2 separate regions of the Homo sapiens genome follow, and region 2 is linked to region 1. Evidence: fine-mapped expression QTL. A gene starts in region 1. The other region holds a variant in brackets. All regions are shown on one strand. Distances are from middle to middle.

Region 1 (9,895 bases):
TTTTTTCCACTCTGCCTGCCTTCCATAACATCTATGGTTTAAATAGTGCCATACTTTTCTTTCCTCTCTCTCTCTCTTTCCTTCTTTTCTTTTTTTGAGACAGGGTCTCTCTCTGTCACCCAGGCTGGAATGTAGTCGTGCAATCTTGGCTCACTGCACCCTCTACCTCCCAGGCTCAAGTAATCCTCCCATCTCAGCCTCCCAAGTAGCTGGGACCACAGGCACGTGCCACTATGCGCGGCTAATTTTTGCATTTTTTTGTAGAGACGGGGTTTCACTATGTTGCCCAGTCTGGTCTGTCCCAAACTCCTGGGCTCAAGCAATCCACCCACTTCGGCCTCCCAAAGCATTTGGAATTACAAACGTGAGCCACTGCACCTGGCCTTGCCATGCTCTTCAAATTACATTCTTCTCTATCTTCCTTGATATCACAAACAAAGATTTTCTTCATGGTTAGATGGGCACCAGGCCTTATAGAATCCTCTCTAGAAACAGCTCTCTTTGGTTCCAGTACACACCTGTCAGCCTTGTGTGTCCACCTCTTTAACACGAGAGTAAGTCACAAAACCAAAGCCTCTGGAATGTGTTGTTTGGGAGTCTCTCATTATCACACAGCCTGTGAGTATGTGCCATTTCTCAAACTATCGTCTGTATTTTCAAAGCTGTGAACACAGTAAACAGTTTTCTCAAGTGCTCTGGTTCCTTTGGATCATGTGCCTCCATTTTGAGCCCGGACTCGCCTTTTCCAAATTGAGTTCAATTTGGGACTGAGAGGAAGAGCAGTCTTCTTTTTTAAGAATAGTTTTAGGTCTACAGAAAAATCGAGCAGAAAGCACAGAGAGTTTCCATATGCTTCCTACCCCAGCGGTGTCCCCTATCATTGTTTTGCATCAGTGTGGTACATTTGTTGCAAGTAATGGGCTAGTAATAATATTGATACAACATTATTAAAGTCTATAATCTACATTAGAGACTTGATGCTGTTTTATTCTTCTCCTCTCATTGGAAAGTGGCAGAAATAAATGTAAGTATTAAATCTTCGAGGGTTAACAGAAAGTCTTCTATGTAGGCCTTTGGCTACTTCTCTCCTTTTTGTCACCCTCAAAATTCTAGAGTCATATGTATTCCCTTTTTCCCTTCATCTTTTCCATCTCTTCATTATGCTTCAACCCATTGTACTTTATCTTCTCTGTCATTTTACTAAAATATATCTTTCCACAGAAAACAATACCTCCTTTATTACTAAGTTCAAGTATGCATTATTATTCCTTATCAAATTTAACTTTGTAGCAGCACAGGACACTGTTAACCCTTTCTCCCTTCTTGAATTATTTTTTACTTAACTTCCCAACTTGGTATCTTACCTTCCTGATTCCCAGCTACTCTAATCATTGATCCTTTACTTTCTCTACATTAGCCCCATTCTCTCTCTCTCTCTCTCTCTCTCTCTCTCTGCTTTAGCCAGTCTCTAAGATGGTCCTCAATGATTCCCAACTCTTGGTATTCACATTCTTGTGTGTCACCTTCCTCCATTGACCTGGGTTGATCCATGTGACCAGTAAAATAGAACAGAAGTGATGGTATGTCATTTCCAAGATTAAGTTATAAAAGATGTTGCATTTTTTTTTTGTCTTGGTCTTGCTCTCTTTCTCCTCTAGACTGCTCCATGAGGGCTGCATGAAGCAGCCACATAATTTACCATTACAACCTCTGGCAAATAGTAAGTGCTCAACTCATATTTGCTGAGTCAATTTATATAAGAACCTTTCCACATTTTATTGCTTCCTCTCTCCCCCTCCTACGAATTTCTATAGCACTTACTGAACGCATTTTGACATCTAGCACATTTTGTATTTATTATTTTATAAAAGGGCTTGGCTCAGTTGAGCCTTCTGAAGGAATGTTCCCTCACCTACTATGTGGCTGGCACTGGGCTAGTTGCAGGTCAATCGAAGCTCATCTTGATCATCCTCCTAGAGAAGGAGCTCCTTGTAGGTGAGTGGGGCCAAGCCCTGGTCACCTGTATGCTTCCCAGGGAACCTAGCCTAGGAGCCTGTAGAGTAGCATAAAAACGATATTAAAATGGGTTGGGTGTCGTGGCTCACACCTGTAATCCCAGCACTTTGGGAGGCCGAGGCTGGCGGATCACTTGAGGTCAGGAGTTTGAGACCAGCCTGGCCAACATGGTGAAACTCCATCTCTACTAAAAATACAAAAATTAGCCCCATGTGGTGGCACACACCTATAGTCCCAGCTACTCTCCTTGGGAGGCTGAGGCAAGAGAATCACTTGAACCCAGGAGGCGGAGGTTGGAGTGAGCCAAGATCGCGCGCCACTGCACTCCAGCCTGGGTGACCAAGCAAGACCCTGTCTCAAAACAACAACAACAACAACAACTATAGTAAAATGAACATTTACCTGGAAATCTCAAATTCTGAGTTCAATCTTTGACCCTTAAGGCTGTGACTCTGGGCAAGTCACTCCACAAATGTGAACTTATTTCCTCATTGTGATAAAGATATAGTAATTATACTTTTTACCCAAGGAGTCACTGGGTAGCTCAGATATGTCAAACCCTTATTTCCTCACTTGTCATAGGTCACTTATTGTCAGATGAATCATGGATTTCATAATATATTTTGCATTTGTGTTGGGAATGGGGTGTGAAGAGCATGATTTTAACCATCTATATCAATTATAAAACATTCAGATTTCAGTAACTTTAACATAAGAAAATGTTTCTTTGAATCAAGACAACACGTTATCTATTGAAGTGTTCAAGTGTTCTGAAGTTGGAAAACCATTGTAAAACTGGGAGCTCTAATTATGTCACATTCAAACAGATGTGTTCTGAATTAATGACTGAGTTGATTTTCCTCTTTTTTGTTCAGTCATGTGTTAAGGATTCGTTCTGTTTTATTATTGTTATGAAACATTGCAAACACATACAAAAGTGAAAGCAATGCCTTCCCATGGATCTGATATCCAGCTGCAACAAAAATCAACACAAGGTCACTCTGATTTCATCTATATCTCTACTCAATACTCTCCACCCCCCACCATCCCTATGGGCTATTTTCAAGCAAATCTCAGGTCTCATATAATTTCATTTGTAAATACTTTAAAGGAGTATTGTTTAATAGCCATTTACCTTCCACCGTCTTCTAGTCAGAGATAAACTAAGTTTTCTTAGAGGTGTTTGCAAGCTTAGTTCACATTGCCTACCCTCCTGAAAGATCTTTATTAACCAAGTTGAAAAATACACCTTCTTAAGAAGGCCCCTTCCCCAATGGTTACTGGGGGTGGAAGGTAATCTTAAAATCATTACTTGGGGAGTAAAATGCTGGTGGTTCCCACATTTCTGAATACCTTTCCATTTTAAAACCAGTTCTTAATGCAGTAGACGAGATCAGAAACTGACCTACGTAAGTTTGTGATTTTTTTTTTTGTTAGAGTGCTGATTTCTTCTTAACTTTTTTGTTTGCTTTATCTCCATGGGTTTAATCATTACATGATATGGTTCTAATGATAGCATGTTGTGTCATTTTAGGGACACTATTTTCTGCAAACTTTTTTACTCAGAGTGTTTTCTGACCATAATGCATTACAAAATGTACTATATAGATGTGAATATATGCTTAGAATTAAAAATAAAAATCCATGGATAAGTTTTCAAAATAATGTTGCCACTCACTGTATGTTTCAAAAGAGATGGGGTTTCACTATGTTGCTCAGTCTGGTCTGTCCCAAACTCCTGGGCTCAAGCAATCCACCCACTTCGGCATCCCAAAGCATTTGGAATTACAAATGTGAGCCACTGCACCTGGCCTTGCCATGCTTTTCAAATTACACTCTTCTCCATCTTCCTTTTCAAAATAATGTTGCCACTCACTATATGTTAAATGTTAAACATTTTACAGATTCAAATGCAGTAGGGATTCTCTGAAAAAGTTTTATCTTACTAACAGCTTTCAGATTATCAGTACTAGTTGTATGGCTTAAACACAGCCACATGTAAATACTTACTTAGATGAAGCTATGGCTAATCACATATGTAACACAATCAGTTTCATGTAGTGGTTTGATCACTCGTGTATTCAAGACTATATAAACAGGGATGAATTTGAGGAAGTTGGAGTGATGGAGTGAGAAAAGTTTGTTTTTGCAGCAGTAGCAGTAGAAGGGGCAGGCCGATTCAGTAAACAAGCACACATTTCAGAATGCAAACTGCATTCTCCAAGCTGGCACCATGGTTTTACGGTGCTAGGGATGTTTACTGCTTGTTGGGTTTGCAGCTTTATAAACAGTGCTCCTTGGAGTTCTCTGCTTGCTATTCTGAAACATATTTGAGTTTTGCAACCGAGAAGTAAATGACTTTGATTTCCAAAATCAGTCAGTCATTTTTCAGTGTTGTGATAGGAGATTCATTTGAATTCACTTCTTCAGAGATGCAGGAGCCAATCAGGATCCTGTTGCAGTGAAAATGATTCTTTTATTGAAACCCCAGCTTCCTTTAAAAGAAGCCAAAGAGTACTGAATTACAGAACTGCCATACAGCCTTCCCTTTATTCTTTCCATCACCCAGGCCACAGGAAAAAAAAAAAAAAGACAAACTTTTGTTCTTATTTTCACAAGTTATCACATGGTTTGGAAACTTCAGGGCATTTCTGAAACTTCATTGGTATGTGCCAGAAAAGTCCTCTTTAACACACCAGGTTGAATGAAAGACAGTTTGAGATGTTAATTTCCATTTACTGCAGAAAAAATATATTTAATGCATTAAGGAAATGTCTAGCTTAAAGAAATTGCCCACTTTTGAAACAAATGGTTGGAGGCCTGAGGTCCAAAGCTCTAAAATCAGTTAACAAATGTTTATTGAACACCTATTTTGAACTAGGCTGTTGAAGAAGTTCAAAAGTCTAAGATAAATTCCCACTTTCAACTCACCTACAGTCTAGTTGGGCAGAAAAAATCCAAACTCAGGGGACAATGCAAGAGTTAGATAGTAAAACCAGACAAATACACAAGCAATGAAACACGACACCATATGGTTGGGTTTAGAAAAGTGTTTCAGGCAATACATATTGTAGAGGCTTAGGGATCACAGTAATCTGAAAATCCCTGGAAAATATTCACAAAGAAGGTAGACCATTGGGATGGGTTTGAAAACATAGATAAGAATCAGATAACCTTAAGAGGAAGGAGGAAGCAAACAGTGAGTCTGGTTGTAATAGAGAAGGGAGTGGGAGAGGTTAAGGAGGGTGGGAAGGGGCCAGGTTGGCAAATCCTTAGTGGTAAGGCCTGGCTGTGGGGCTGAAGATGATTCTAAGGGGTCCAAGGTCAACAGCAGTGTTTAAAATTAGATTGCCAAGTGCATGGATTCCCTTTCCTTTCCTCCTTTTCTGTCCTTTAAAAGCAGAACCTGATTAGACAGTCTGGGACATTCCCAGCCCTAGGCTAAAAAGCAGCGATTGAGGCACAAAGTATTCTTGGCCCTGAAGTTGAACCTCTGGGGATGGAGCTCAGGGAAGTCATAGGGAGTTTGGGCCCAGGTAGGATCAGACCTATCCGCAGGCTTACATAGGCTCCAGTGATTAAAGCTCAGCTTCCTGAATATGCCCCGAGGATAAAAGAGACTTTTCCGAGTGAAAGGCATTTTCCAAGGCGCTCTCAACGGGAATGTCTGAGATAGCGAACTGCGGCTGCAGAGCACCAGCTGAACGCACACACACAAGTGTCTTCTCACGGTATGATTAGTGTTCACAGGTTTCGTCTAGCTCATCAGAAATGAAGAATAGCGATGATGAAGTGACATGTCACCGGGAGGGTTGAAAAAGAAAAAGTGCGTAAGAGGGTCCCAAAAAGAACCAGCTTCCGTGTAGACGGGTCTGCAGAATCTGCCGTCTCCCGTCTTCTGGGTCCCCTGGCCCGCCCGGAGTGGGGACAAGGAAATGGAAAGCCCGGCTCACCCGGCTCTCCTCCCTCGCAGCCAGCAGATGGCTCCCGGGCTCTCTCGCGAGCCCGCTCGCCCCCTCTCCAGACGCAGGGCTTTTGCGGTTTGGGAGGGAGGCTGCGAGGAGGGGCGCGGTGCCCGCCGCCGCCACCGCAGCACCGCACAGCGTCTCTCCTGGGGGTGCGACCTACGCCGGGGACCCAGCGCTCGGGCACCGGAGGCCGGCCTCGCACCGGTGCGGAGGCCGGCTCTCGCGAGGTGAGGAGGAAACGCAGGAGGAAGAGGAGAAGGAGAAGGAGGAGAAGGAGGAGGGCCGGAGCTGCCCCCGCCCAGCCGGAGCCCGGCAGGAGCGCGAGGAAAACCTACTCCCCCCGCCCCGCGCCGCTCTCCCCGCCCTCTCCCACGCCTTCCGCTTTCACCTAGGGCTGTAGGTGCGGCGCGGAGGCTGGGCGGGAGCTACGCCGGCCCAAGCCCCGCCGGGGACCAGCGAGCCGGGAGGAGGAGCAGGCGCCACAGCCGCCCCGCGCCCCGCGCCCGCTTGTAATCCGGTCCGCTCCTTATTCAGCCGCCGGGAACTGCGAGGAGGCGTCATGTAGCAGCAGCAGCAAATCCGCCTCGCATTTGCAACTCTTTTTTTTTTTTTTGGTGGGGCGGGGGGCGCGCGGCAAAATTCTGTCTCCGCCCCCCCTTTTCTTGCCCACTTCCATTTGCAAGCTGCATCTGCCTCTCTAAAAAAATTGAGGAGTTCGGGGAAGGGCAGGGGGCCATAAATCAGAGTTGGACCTGCAATAACCCCCACACCTACAGGGCAACCATGACCGAGGAGAGCTCTGACGTTCCCAGGGAGTTGATAGGTAAGATTCACGCGGTTGTTGGTTTTCCACCTTCCTCTGCGTACTCCTCACCTCTCTCTCCCTTCCCACCTCTGCTTTCCCGCAGGTCTCGAGAAGTCTTGGCGCCCCTTAGGGCAGAGTGGTGTTGGGCAGGGTCACTGGGGGTGCCGGGAAGTTTGTTCCCATCCGACCGCCTGTAGAGCCAAGTGCAGAGAGGGAAGGCTTCGGGGAGGAATCGGGAGTCCTCGGGAGGTGGGTGGGAGGAGGGTCTCGACTGTGAGCCCTGGGCACCTCCTCTTGCCCGGAAGCGGGGATCCAGGTTGGCGAAAGAAGGGGGCGGGCCATCTTAGACTTGGGAGTTCTGCAAGCGAGGGGAGCCCTTTACAGCTCCCAGCCCACTGCCCCAAACTCGGGAAAGTCCGGGAAAGCCTATTGGAAGGACAGGTGGCGAGCGCACAGTAGGTCGTCTCCGGCACGTGTCAGGCGCTTTCCTGAAAATGCCCCGCGGGAGGTGATCTTCTGACACGCAGACTTGGGGGAGTGGGCGCTAGTCTGGTAAAATGACTGGGCTTGGCAAGGTGTGGCTTGGTGTAGCCAGCTGGGAGCGAAAGGGTTACAGGGCTGACGCAGACTCAGGCCAGGAAATAGAGGGTTAATGATAAAAGCCTTATTTTAATAATGATTAACCTACCGATTCTCCCTATAGGGGATCTCTTAGGGAACCCGTGTGTGTTACGCTGTGCAAGGTGACCCATTGTTTGAGTACCTTGAGGTTTTTTTTTTTTTGGTGGTGGTGGGGGCGGGGCTGGTTAAGTCTTGGGGTTTAACTTAATTATCTGGAGGGTTAAAATGGCAGAGCTGAAATAGGATGGGAGAGTGTTCTGAAAACCTAGCGTTTAAGCATGTATATGTGTGTAGCATGTTATACTGTAACAAGGTATGTGCGTCTGTGTACAGATGTGTTTTGAGCCCTAGTGACCTATATTCCCTCCTGTACCATTCTTGGCACACTACACAGCCTACAGCTCACAAAGATGATGTTTAATCGGCGCTGACAACAAGAGGAAGTTCTGAGCACCCGTTGATCTCCATGTGTGGAATTTGCCCCTCTGTTGTTTCTTTTAGCTAATAATACTTTGGAGGAATTTGTGTATGCCCTTCCGTTGGTGACTGTTAACTCAGCAGGTAAAACTTGATGTAGAGAGGCTGTTGCTAGGTTTGTATGGAAGCCCCTACTTCTGCTGAATTACAGACAAACCTGATCTTTTACCAGAATTTACAGTATGAAATTATTCACAGACGCACGCGCGTGTGCGCGCGCGCACACACACACACACACACACACACACACACACGCACCTCTCATCATGATCCCAGCAGATCCTCTTCTCTCTCCCCAACCCTGTGGAGTCTGCATCTTTTGCTGGAGTGAGTGACACATCCGGTTCTGGGAGGCTGCGACCTTTCCAACACCCCAAGCAAACGCCAGAGGCTCTGAAGACGCCTCCAGAGGTCCTGAGAATGAGTGTAGGGCAGGGCTTGCCTGGCTGGTCAGGGGATAAGGATGGCTAAAGTGGGTGGCAGATTTTTACTTTATATAAGGAGTTGTCCTTAAGTCTGGAAATGGAAAGTGTAGGTAATTACTTAGGCCCAAGAGAAAGAGTGAAGGGTAGAGTGGAAATAAGGTGTCTGGGTTTCTATTCATGGTTCTCAAAAGGAATAGTTTGTATATTTTAAAAGTTGAGTTTGACCTTTATCTTGAAATGGAATTTTTGTTTTTATTAAGTATTGCCTATCTCTTTCAAGAGAGTGACATATTATGCCCGATATGATTTTTCTGGGCCTTTCAGTGGTCAAGTTAGGCTGGGATAGAATAAATACCTGCACCTGCTTTCCTCTAAATTCAAGTGCTCACAAGAGTTCTGCTCTGATCAATTCAAAATGGCGACCGACCACATGAAAACCTCTATATATTCCCTTAAGATTCCCTCAAGATATTTAAAAAGTGTTACAGACTTGGCTGAGCGTGGTGGCTCACCCCTGTAATCCTAGCACTTTGGGAGGCCGAGGCAGGTGGATCACCTGAGGTCGGGAGTTGGAGACCAGCCTGACCAACATGAAGAAACCCGGTCTCTACTAAAAATACAAAAATTAGCTGGGCGTGGGGGCACGTGGCTGTAATCCCAGCTACTCGGGAGGCTGAGGCAGGAGAATCACTTGAACCCGGGAGGCGGAGGTTGCCGTAAGCCGAGATCAAGCCATTTCATTCCAGCCTGGGCAATAAGAGTGAAACTCCATCTCAAAAAAAAAAAAAAAAAAAAAAAGTGTTATAGACTTTATGTAGAAACAATTTAAATGTAGAGAAGAATAAGAAGACTATATGTCACTCCTGTTACCACTTAGAGGTAGTTATTTTAAAGGGTATATGATTTTCCAGTCTGTTTCCATGTGTATATGTTCTTAAGTCAATTTCAGATGCCCATTTCCCGCAATTCTTTTTTAGGGGAGGGAGGAGTGGCCTGTGCTTGTTTCTCGAGTTCTGATAAGATAGGAGCTTTGTGAAGAACTCATAGTGCAGTGAGCTCTTCTACATGTTCCCTTGCCCCAAACATTCCACCTCCTTGCTGTTCCTTGAACAGGCTGTGCTTTCTCAGATTTCCATGCTGTTCTTTATGCGTACACTGTCTTTTTCTCCCCGTTTTCACTCTTTATCTCAGCAGCTCTAAACTTTCATGGCGGTATTTCCAAGAAGAAAATTTTGATTACCCCTTATTAAACATATATTTGTTAAACTACATGCTCCATTTAGTGTGTATAATCTAAAACACAAACTGAAACACACATTGTAAGTAGAAATGAAAATTCTATTTTCTTCTTTCATCTCAATGGATTATATTGTACACTCTACTTTGGAAACCAGTGATCTTATTTCCTATGCCTTCAAGATTCAGCTCAGGGATCCTCTCCTCCCTGAAACCTTTGCGTGCTTCCGAATCCATGATCTTATGCATTGTGTGTGAATTTCTTTTATGACATCTCTCAGTGACCTCCACTAGATTGCAAACTCCTGTGAAATGCAAAGACCATCTCTATCTAGCACCTAGTAGAG
Region 2 (8,000 bases), 52 kb after region 1:
GGTTTCCAGGCAGATTCAATATATTGTGCAAAGGCCCTGAGGAAGTGTGTGGTTTTAGTGGAGAGCTAAAGAACCATGAGGCAAGAGCATCGGGATATCCAAGAAGTCATGCTGGATTACATATACTGGTCAGTAAGGAGCTTGGATTTGATTTTACTGGGGAAATAACATAATCTGATATGTTTAAAATGATTACTGAGGCTTCTAAGTAGAGCATTACACTGTTAACAGTAGTGGGAGTGAGAGGTCAGGCTTGGTCTAGGGCAGTGCTTCTCAATGTGTGGTCTCAGGATCAGCCCTATCAGAATGACCTGGAAACCTGTAAGAAATGCATACTTCAAGTCTTATTATGGACTTGCTGATTCAGAACCTGGAGGTGGGACTCAGCAATCTGCTTTAACAAGTCCTTTGGATGATCTGATATACAGAAAAGTTTGAGAACCACTGGTCTAGGGATTGCTGGAGGAGATGGTAAGCAGTAGATGGATTCTGGTGTATGTTTTGAAGGTAGGGATGATAGGACTTTTGTATATGGGAGCTGAGGAAAAAGGAGAAATCAGAAATATTATTATTATTATTAATGTTTCAAGACGGAATCCCACTGTCACCCAGGCTGGAGTGCAGTGGCATGATCTTGGCTCACTGCAACCTGATAAGGACCTTGTTTATTGTGATGAGGGAGACTGGTGGGGGTAGCAAAAGGACATAACTTTTGAACACATTGCGTTTGGAGTGTTCATGAAATGTCCAAGTGAAGATGTTGGCTGTTGATGGCAAAATGAGCGTACAGTCCAGAGGGAAGATGTAGTTTCAAATACAGCTCAGCAGAAAGATACAGTTTCCAGAAAGGAATTTGGGACTTGCCAGTGTACAGGGAGTATTTAAAGCAATTGAAATAGGTGTGATATCACCAAGGAGAGAGATAGCAAGGAGAGAGGGTGCAAGAGCGGGCAAAGGACCAAGCTGGAAGGAACTCTTGACATTCACAGGAGCAAGAGCCAGCAAAAGAACAGAAAGAACGGCCAGGGAGAGAAGAGAAGAAAACCAGGAAACTGGTTTCATGGGGAAATATTTCAGGAACAGAGTGATCAACTGTGCTTAATTTGTATGATGAAGCGGAGATTTGTAGCATAGAGATCACTAGGCATTCTATTTGGACTGTCAGTGAAATTGAAATAAAAAGTCAAGAATCAACTTGATTTCCATCACAGGTTTTAGATTAGAAGAAACCAGAGAAACACAGCCCCAATTTTCTATTTGCTAGTTTTCCAAACAGTAAGTTTTCATTGATTTCACTGGCTCCCCTCCGGCTACTATTTGCTGTGCACAAACAAAGTCTGAATGAGCATTTTGTAGTCCTGAAAAGGAGTAGCATATGGGCTTCAACAGCCGGTCATATTTTCTTTTATTACTATATTTAAAGCAACATTCAAGATTAAAAAAAAATTCCTGGCAACTAGCATAACAAGCTGCAATAAAATCATTCCTGGCTATTGATATGGGCTACTTTGTGCCTCATGTCATGTTATTGAATCCAACTTCTTGGAATTGACTGTCTTAATCTGTCACTTAGCAAATTTATATTGGTGAGGAAGAACAAAAACAGATTTATAACTTGCATATCTCTTCAAGCTTCTGTTAATATGCTCAATATTAGAATGTTCTACTTTTAGCGTTTTGGGTCATAAGCTATAGAACATTGGGGCTTGGTGAGAGGATATGGGCATGGGGAGAGGAATGAATATTTGGCATTATTTATGTTTGAACCATTGAGCTGGGGTCTTTAGGTTTATTATTTCATTTAATTCCCACTCTGACGTAGGTGGTATTTCCCTCATTAGTAGATAAGGAAATGAGCTAGTAAAGAAAACTATTTAAATCCAGATCTAAAATGGATCTTTATTCTGTGCCAAGCTCTTGGGGGAAGAGTATGTGTGGAGGAGGAGTTGTGGGGACTCACAGAGCAGTGGCAAGGCAAGCCAGAGATACAGCAAAGGGATATCAAGGACTAATGAGGTACTTTAAAGGAGATCGAGTCATGGTAAGGCATTTAAATTAGTTTTGTTAGCAAGTACTGCATGGAACAGGAAGACTCTGTACATGCTCAGTGTAGGGCTTGGTCCGTCAAGACTGGCTAGGAGTTTTCTAGATAGAGCCTTGAATCTTGCATTACAGTCACTACAGAGCATGAGCTCTGTGGACATTTCATGAAAAGCTTCCTTTCTACTTGGATATATTTTTTTACTTCTTGTGTGCATACTTGATTTATTTACTGTTCCTTATAGAGCTGCAAGGCCTTGTTTCTTTTCTATAGAAGTTATATTTCTCTGAGTTCAGATGTCACATCTTCGTTACCTTCTCTCAAGTTTTGCTATACAAGCTTAGGAACGTCATCTCTTTCTCTTCCAGAGTTATCTTCCATCATGTAGGCTTTGGAGCCACTTTCCTCAGAGCCTCCATTTGCCTCACCTCTTCTTGCCTGGGACCTTGTAAAAACAGTGATTGTGGTAATTAAATTGAGATATGAGGAATATATATAACTATTATGTAGTCATAATAATTAAAAATTTAAAAAAAATGCAATGAGAGGGGAAAAAAATCTCCTGGATTGGTGAGCTAGACAAAACTTCATGTTAATTAACATGGATGCTTTAATCCATCTATTCCTGAGTCCAGGACATCAAATCTTGGGTTCTACAATGGGTGCCAGTCTTAGGAGGGTCATATGTATTTCCAGTCACAAAAGATCTTTCTGTCATGTTGGAGAAGACAAAAGTTTATAAGAATCAGTGGGCCATTTAAAATGATAATGAGCAACTTAGGCGTAAAGCCAGATGTCACAGGCTGGTGGCTTGCAGCCTGCTCTACTGTGCTTTAAATACGCAGTATTTAAAAAATTGATGTTGGTTCCCAATATTTATAAATTGGGAGATATCAGCCATAAATCTAGATTCCATCCTCCCCCACCTTTAAAAAAAAGAAAGTTGGATCTGGGAACACTAGGTCTATGTTTGTGCTTAGCAGGAATCGGAAGAGCTGGGTTGTGACCAGGCTCTTTCTTTTAGCAGTGGCAAGCTCTTTTCAGCTTTCTGCCATCCCGAAAGCACCCTAGTGTTTCTCATTGGCCGTGATGCCCATGTTGACTGCAATTTGTCATTGTCCTCAAGGCTGTCGTTTTTTCCACAGAGCCGGCTTTGCTCTTTGACAAAGCTACTTTGGCCTCCTTATACATTTGAGTTCATTGATCCTTAGCCTAAATGATCAGGACATGACACATTCAGAAGTTTGTATTATCTTGTAAAAGCACATGAGCAAAGTCTGTCTAGTAAGTGACATTGCTGGTATTCAGACCAGGATATGGCTGAGAGGAAGCACATATGTAAATTGAATGCATCAGGGATCTTTTGGAGAAGTCAAACAAGAATTCTGATTACCTCATCAGTGATACCTAAATGCAGATTTCTTCTTGCTTCAGACAAAATTTTTCAAAGATACTCAAAGTATCTCAGCTCTTGTTGTATGTGTGTTTTGAAAGATAGGGTTGAAGAAAACAATGAAAAGATAACAGGGATATCTGTCCTCCAGAGTTGTTCAGGGGATTCAGCATATGAGAAGTTATTTGCGAAGTTTTAGTTCCCAGTCTGGGCATCAGCTCATTATCATTAGTCTCTGATATGAGTTGTTTAATGATGAACTTGTGCAAAGCACTTGATCCTATTCAGCGTCAGACATTCATTGTTAAAAGAACACATTGAGGACACTGTTGTAGGTCAGGAAATTGAAGGTAGGGAGTTGAGGGCAAGTAGAAGAGAGTTTCATTCTGGAGTTAGTTCAGTAAACATTGAATGCTCATGATGTGTCAGGCTTTATGCTGCTACCAGAGGCAGGAAGATAAATAAGACAGAACATGCAGACTTGAACAGTACGGTGTGGTAAGAGGTGTGCCCATGGTACTGTGCGATTATAGACTGGCGTTGGCCCAGTGCAGGGCTAGAGGGATGCTCCATGGTGATGACTGAGTTGAGCCTTAAGGCCCGGATGAGCTGGCCAGGTAGTGATGACAAGAGGGAGAGGGATTTAAAGTGTGAAGTTCAATTTAAGGAACAGAGATGATGCAGGAAGGGCTAAGATATGGAAGGCTTTGATGAAGATTTTGGGGAGCCAGGGAAGAAGGGGAGAGATGATCAGATTTCCATTTTGATTGCAGCTTGGTAACTGGATTACAGTGTGGCAGAACTGGAGGCTGGGAGACCAGGAAGGTTTCAACCAAGTTAGAAAATCATTTTTGGTTTAGAAGACAGTGAGGGGCTGGGTGTGGTGGCTCATGCCTGTAATCCTAGCACTTTCTCAGGCTGAGGCAGGAGGATCACTTGAGCTCAGGAGTTCGAGACCAGCCTGGGCAACATAGTGAGACGCACCCCCCCGCCCATCTCTATTAAAAAAAAAAAAAAAAGACAGATGAGGATGGGATCTGGAGTGGCACAAGCCATGATTTACCCCCTCATTAGGTGAGATACTTTTTGGAAGTGCTGACCTTTTGCCATTTTGAAGAACCAGCTTTTAGATGCTCCATTATGGACTTAGATTGAGGAAGATTGATCAATTTTATTATTTTGCTGCTTTACATTTTCAAGAGGTTTTTTTTTTTTTTTTTTTTTGAGGAGGAGGGAGGAGAAGGGAACTTACTGTAATGTAATTTTGCTAAAAGTTTCCCAGAAGTGAATCATGTTTATCAAGATAAATTGTAGAAAGAAGAA[A/G]TTTGTTTGCTTATAATATTGTTTCTATGGGAAATCATTCTTCAACAACAAGCAGCAAACTTCCTGGGAGGAGGCACTCAGTATATTCTTCTGCCCCTGAGGAAGTTGAGGATTGAAGTATCTCCCTTGCTTGTACTCTGGGACTAGTTGACTCTAAGCCTCCTTCCAGCCTCCTGCTGTCAAAACAACTTTTCTTCTGTTTATTTTCATATAGGAGCTGCACAACTCAAATGTTATGTGTTATGCCAGGACCTCAGTAGCAGGTGGGGGTGAAAAGCCCTGCACAGTATTTACTGGGAAAGGATTGCCTGTTCCTGAGGCACTGCCTCCATGATAGACGCTCCACTGATGCTGCAGCCCATGATAGGCTAAAGAGATTTTGTGGGTACTAAGTTCTATTAAAATTTAGTTCAGGCTGTCATCGCTGTTCTCCAGGAAACCTCAGTACCCTTTTAATTAGCCCCACCCAGGCTGTGACCTCACCCTGATCCATTGTCTGTACAGCTGCCAGAGTGATTTTCTGAACTGCACATCCAAGTGTATCATTCTCCTACTTAAAATCCTTCAGCAGTTCCCCAGAGCTAATCCATGGGAGTGGGAAGGCAAGAATCTGAGTCTCTTGCAGGACCCGTGAGGCATCCGTCCCCCAAGGGAGCCGAAGTTCAGTCCTTCCTATTAGATCTCTAGAAAGCTACGTGACTGGACCCCATTATTCTACACTCCCTGAAGCCCACTTACTTTAATTTTTGATGCTTGTCTTTGGCTTTTACAAATTGATATGAGAAGCCAACTGTGAAGTTCAGGTCCATGTTGTTTGTTAAAGGAATCATAAGTCTGTTTTGCAATTCAATGCTTTCTTTAAGGACCTATGAATACTTGTTAAATGAATAGTTCATATTCTAAATTGCTTTTAGCATTTAGTGCCAGGAAAAAAGAACTTTTCTCATTTAAAAATCTTGTGTGCTTCGTTTAAAGAATCAATTAAAATAATAGGGTGTTTGGTTTTTTAAAAACATAAATTTTGTTTTTTTAGAGATGGGGAGGTGGTCTCACTCTGTTGCCCAGGCTGGCCTTGAACTCCTGGACTCCAAGTGATCCTCTCGCCTCAGCCTCCTGAATCACTAGGACTATTGTGTATTTGCCTTTTGACTTTTGTTGCCAGGAGCCTCAAATCTAAAGATAGGTCATAATAGTCATAAAAGTAGTGATGAACTGGAAATCTGCTGTTTTTGTCTTTCCAGCCTAGGAGCCTTTTCCCCATTTACTCGTTTGTTTACAAATATTTTTTGAGTGGTTGTCATGTGCTGGGCACTGAGAAAGCTGTAGTGAATAAGATGGGTAGGCAAAAATGGAAGTGGTTCGATTGTGCTCATCCAGGTATGAGATAATAGTGGCTTGGGTGAGTGTTTGCAGTGAAGGTGTAGAGAAGTGGGTGAGTTCTGAATGTATTTTTAAGGTAGAAGCAAGTGAATTTGCTGATGATCAAAAGTGGGGAATGAGGGAAAAAGAAGAATCCAGGACGATTCCCAGGTTTTGATTAGGTATGTGATACTGACTTTTGCTGAAACTGAGGGACATGTTGAGGAAGAAGGGAAGGACAGCTGAAAACATTTGGGAAATGTTAATTTGTAATACTTGTTACATATCCAAATGGAGATGTCATTTAGTTTTCCAGAGCTCAGGGTAGAGATTCTGTCTCCATTCCATAGCACCACCCACCATGCAAACATGCATACACACACACACACACACACACACACACACGCGCACACACACACACACACTTCTTTTAGGGAACTTCTCATGTCCACAGCAACCATGTGATTCTACTATGGTTTCAGCTTCTTCAGCCACAAAAGACCTGATACTTCCGTGCCTGCTGGCCTTTGTGCTATAGTCTCCTGGCCACAGTGATTAGTCCAGGGGGTGGACATATGACCCAAGAGTCCTTCATTGGGGTCTAGGGAAATACCGCCTTGAAGAGAGAGGCTCTCTTTTTCTGCTGGAGAGACTAAATGGTTTACACTCAGATGTGATTCCTGCTACGTGGAGGAAGTCCATCTGAATAGTACAGATTGATGACCTTGCCCAGAAAAGCAGAGATTCTACAGAAATGTGGAAAGTCCCCTCCCTGCTGTTTACTACACTGTATCCCTTGGAATGCCAGCGCTTAAAGGTGTTAAGTGAGTAAAACTTCTTTGGTCAAATAAATTTAAAGAAAGAAATTTCTTGACAGCAGAACTTTTCAGATGAGCCTTTGTAATGAATATGCGGCTGGGCATAGTGGCTCATGTCTGTTATCCCAGCACTTTGGGAGGCTGAGGTGGGTGGATTGCTTGACCCCAGGAGTTCGAGACCAGCCTGGGCAACATCACAAGACCCCTTCTCTGCAAAAAATACAAAAAATACAGAAAAATCAGTGATGAGTGCAGCTGTAGTCCCTGCTACTTGGGAGGCTGAGGCAGGGGCATCGCTTGAGCCTGGAAGGTCGAGGCTCCTGTGAGCCAAGATTGTGCCACTGCGCTCCAGCCTGAGTGACAGAGCAAGACACTGTGTAAATAAATAAAAATATGTTTTGTGCTTCTTTAAGAGGAGGATTAGTAAACAGTGTTCCCCAAATCTATTTGACAGTGGAGGGTTTTTTTTTGTTTTTAAATGGGACATCTATAAATATCTCTCAGTTGGAACCCAGCTTGAAATATTGCTTGAAATGCTATAACAGGTTGTCATTTTTTTGTAGTCATAGTGGGGATGGGTGAGTTGTTCTTTATTTCTGGCAAAACTGGTAGGCTCCATATAACTGTCATTACTTCCTGATGTTTTATAGCTTGTTAAGGAGACAAAAGCCTTTTTTCTTCTCCTAGTATTTTAACATGTTAGTACCAGATATTATCTATGCTTAGGTATGAATTTTGGCTCAGAGATTTTCTCAGCATCACACCAATGATAAGTTTCATGATCCTAGAATGTACTTTCCCTGTATTCTTTCTCCTCTGCTGGTGTTCTGTGAGTCCACGTGTATGTGTGTGCAGGACAACACTTAAAGTGGTTATTCTTTCTTCAAAGACTCAGTTCAACACACCCCTGGTGGCTGTTGTAGCTCAGGGTTGAGTAGTGATCCTGGTATTAAAGATGAGAAATTTGTTAGGTAGCCGCTATGAGCTGCAAGGTTTCCTGAGGCAGAGGTATCCGGAACAGAGTCAGGGAGGCCATGGGGCCAGAGGCCTTCCTGATTCTGGACAC

Evidence for each region. PIP is the estimated chance that this variant, and not a neighbour inherited with it, causes the effect.
Region 2: its variant is fine-mapped to the expression of CARMIL1 in monocytes after Pam3CSK4 (Quach 2016, PIP 0.95).

Annotation. Positions count from the first base shown.
Region 1 is chr6:25,273,029-25,282,923 of GRCh38, forward strand. It overlaps CARMIL1 (capping protein regulator and myosin 1 linker 1), which reads left to right and starts at 6,346. Exons shown (of 37, transcript NM_017640.6): 1 at 6,346-6,807. The coding sequence starts at 6,768. It also overlaps the pseudogene HNRNPA3P17. RefSeq lists a silencer at 6,074-6,543.
Region 2 is chr6:25,326,252-25,334,251 of GRCh38, forward strand. All of the region lies in intron 2 of CARMIL1 (capping protein regulator and myosin 1 linker 1), which reads left to right. LOC124901281 (a long non-coding RNA gene) reads right to left here. Exons shown (of 3, transcript XR_007059512.1): 3 at 1,455-2,486. Among named protein-coding and RNA genes, the nearest start is that of CARMIL1, 51 kb to the left of the region's middle. The variant A/G (reference allele first, on the strand shown) is at 4,758.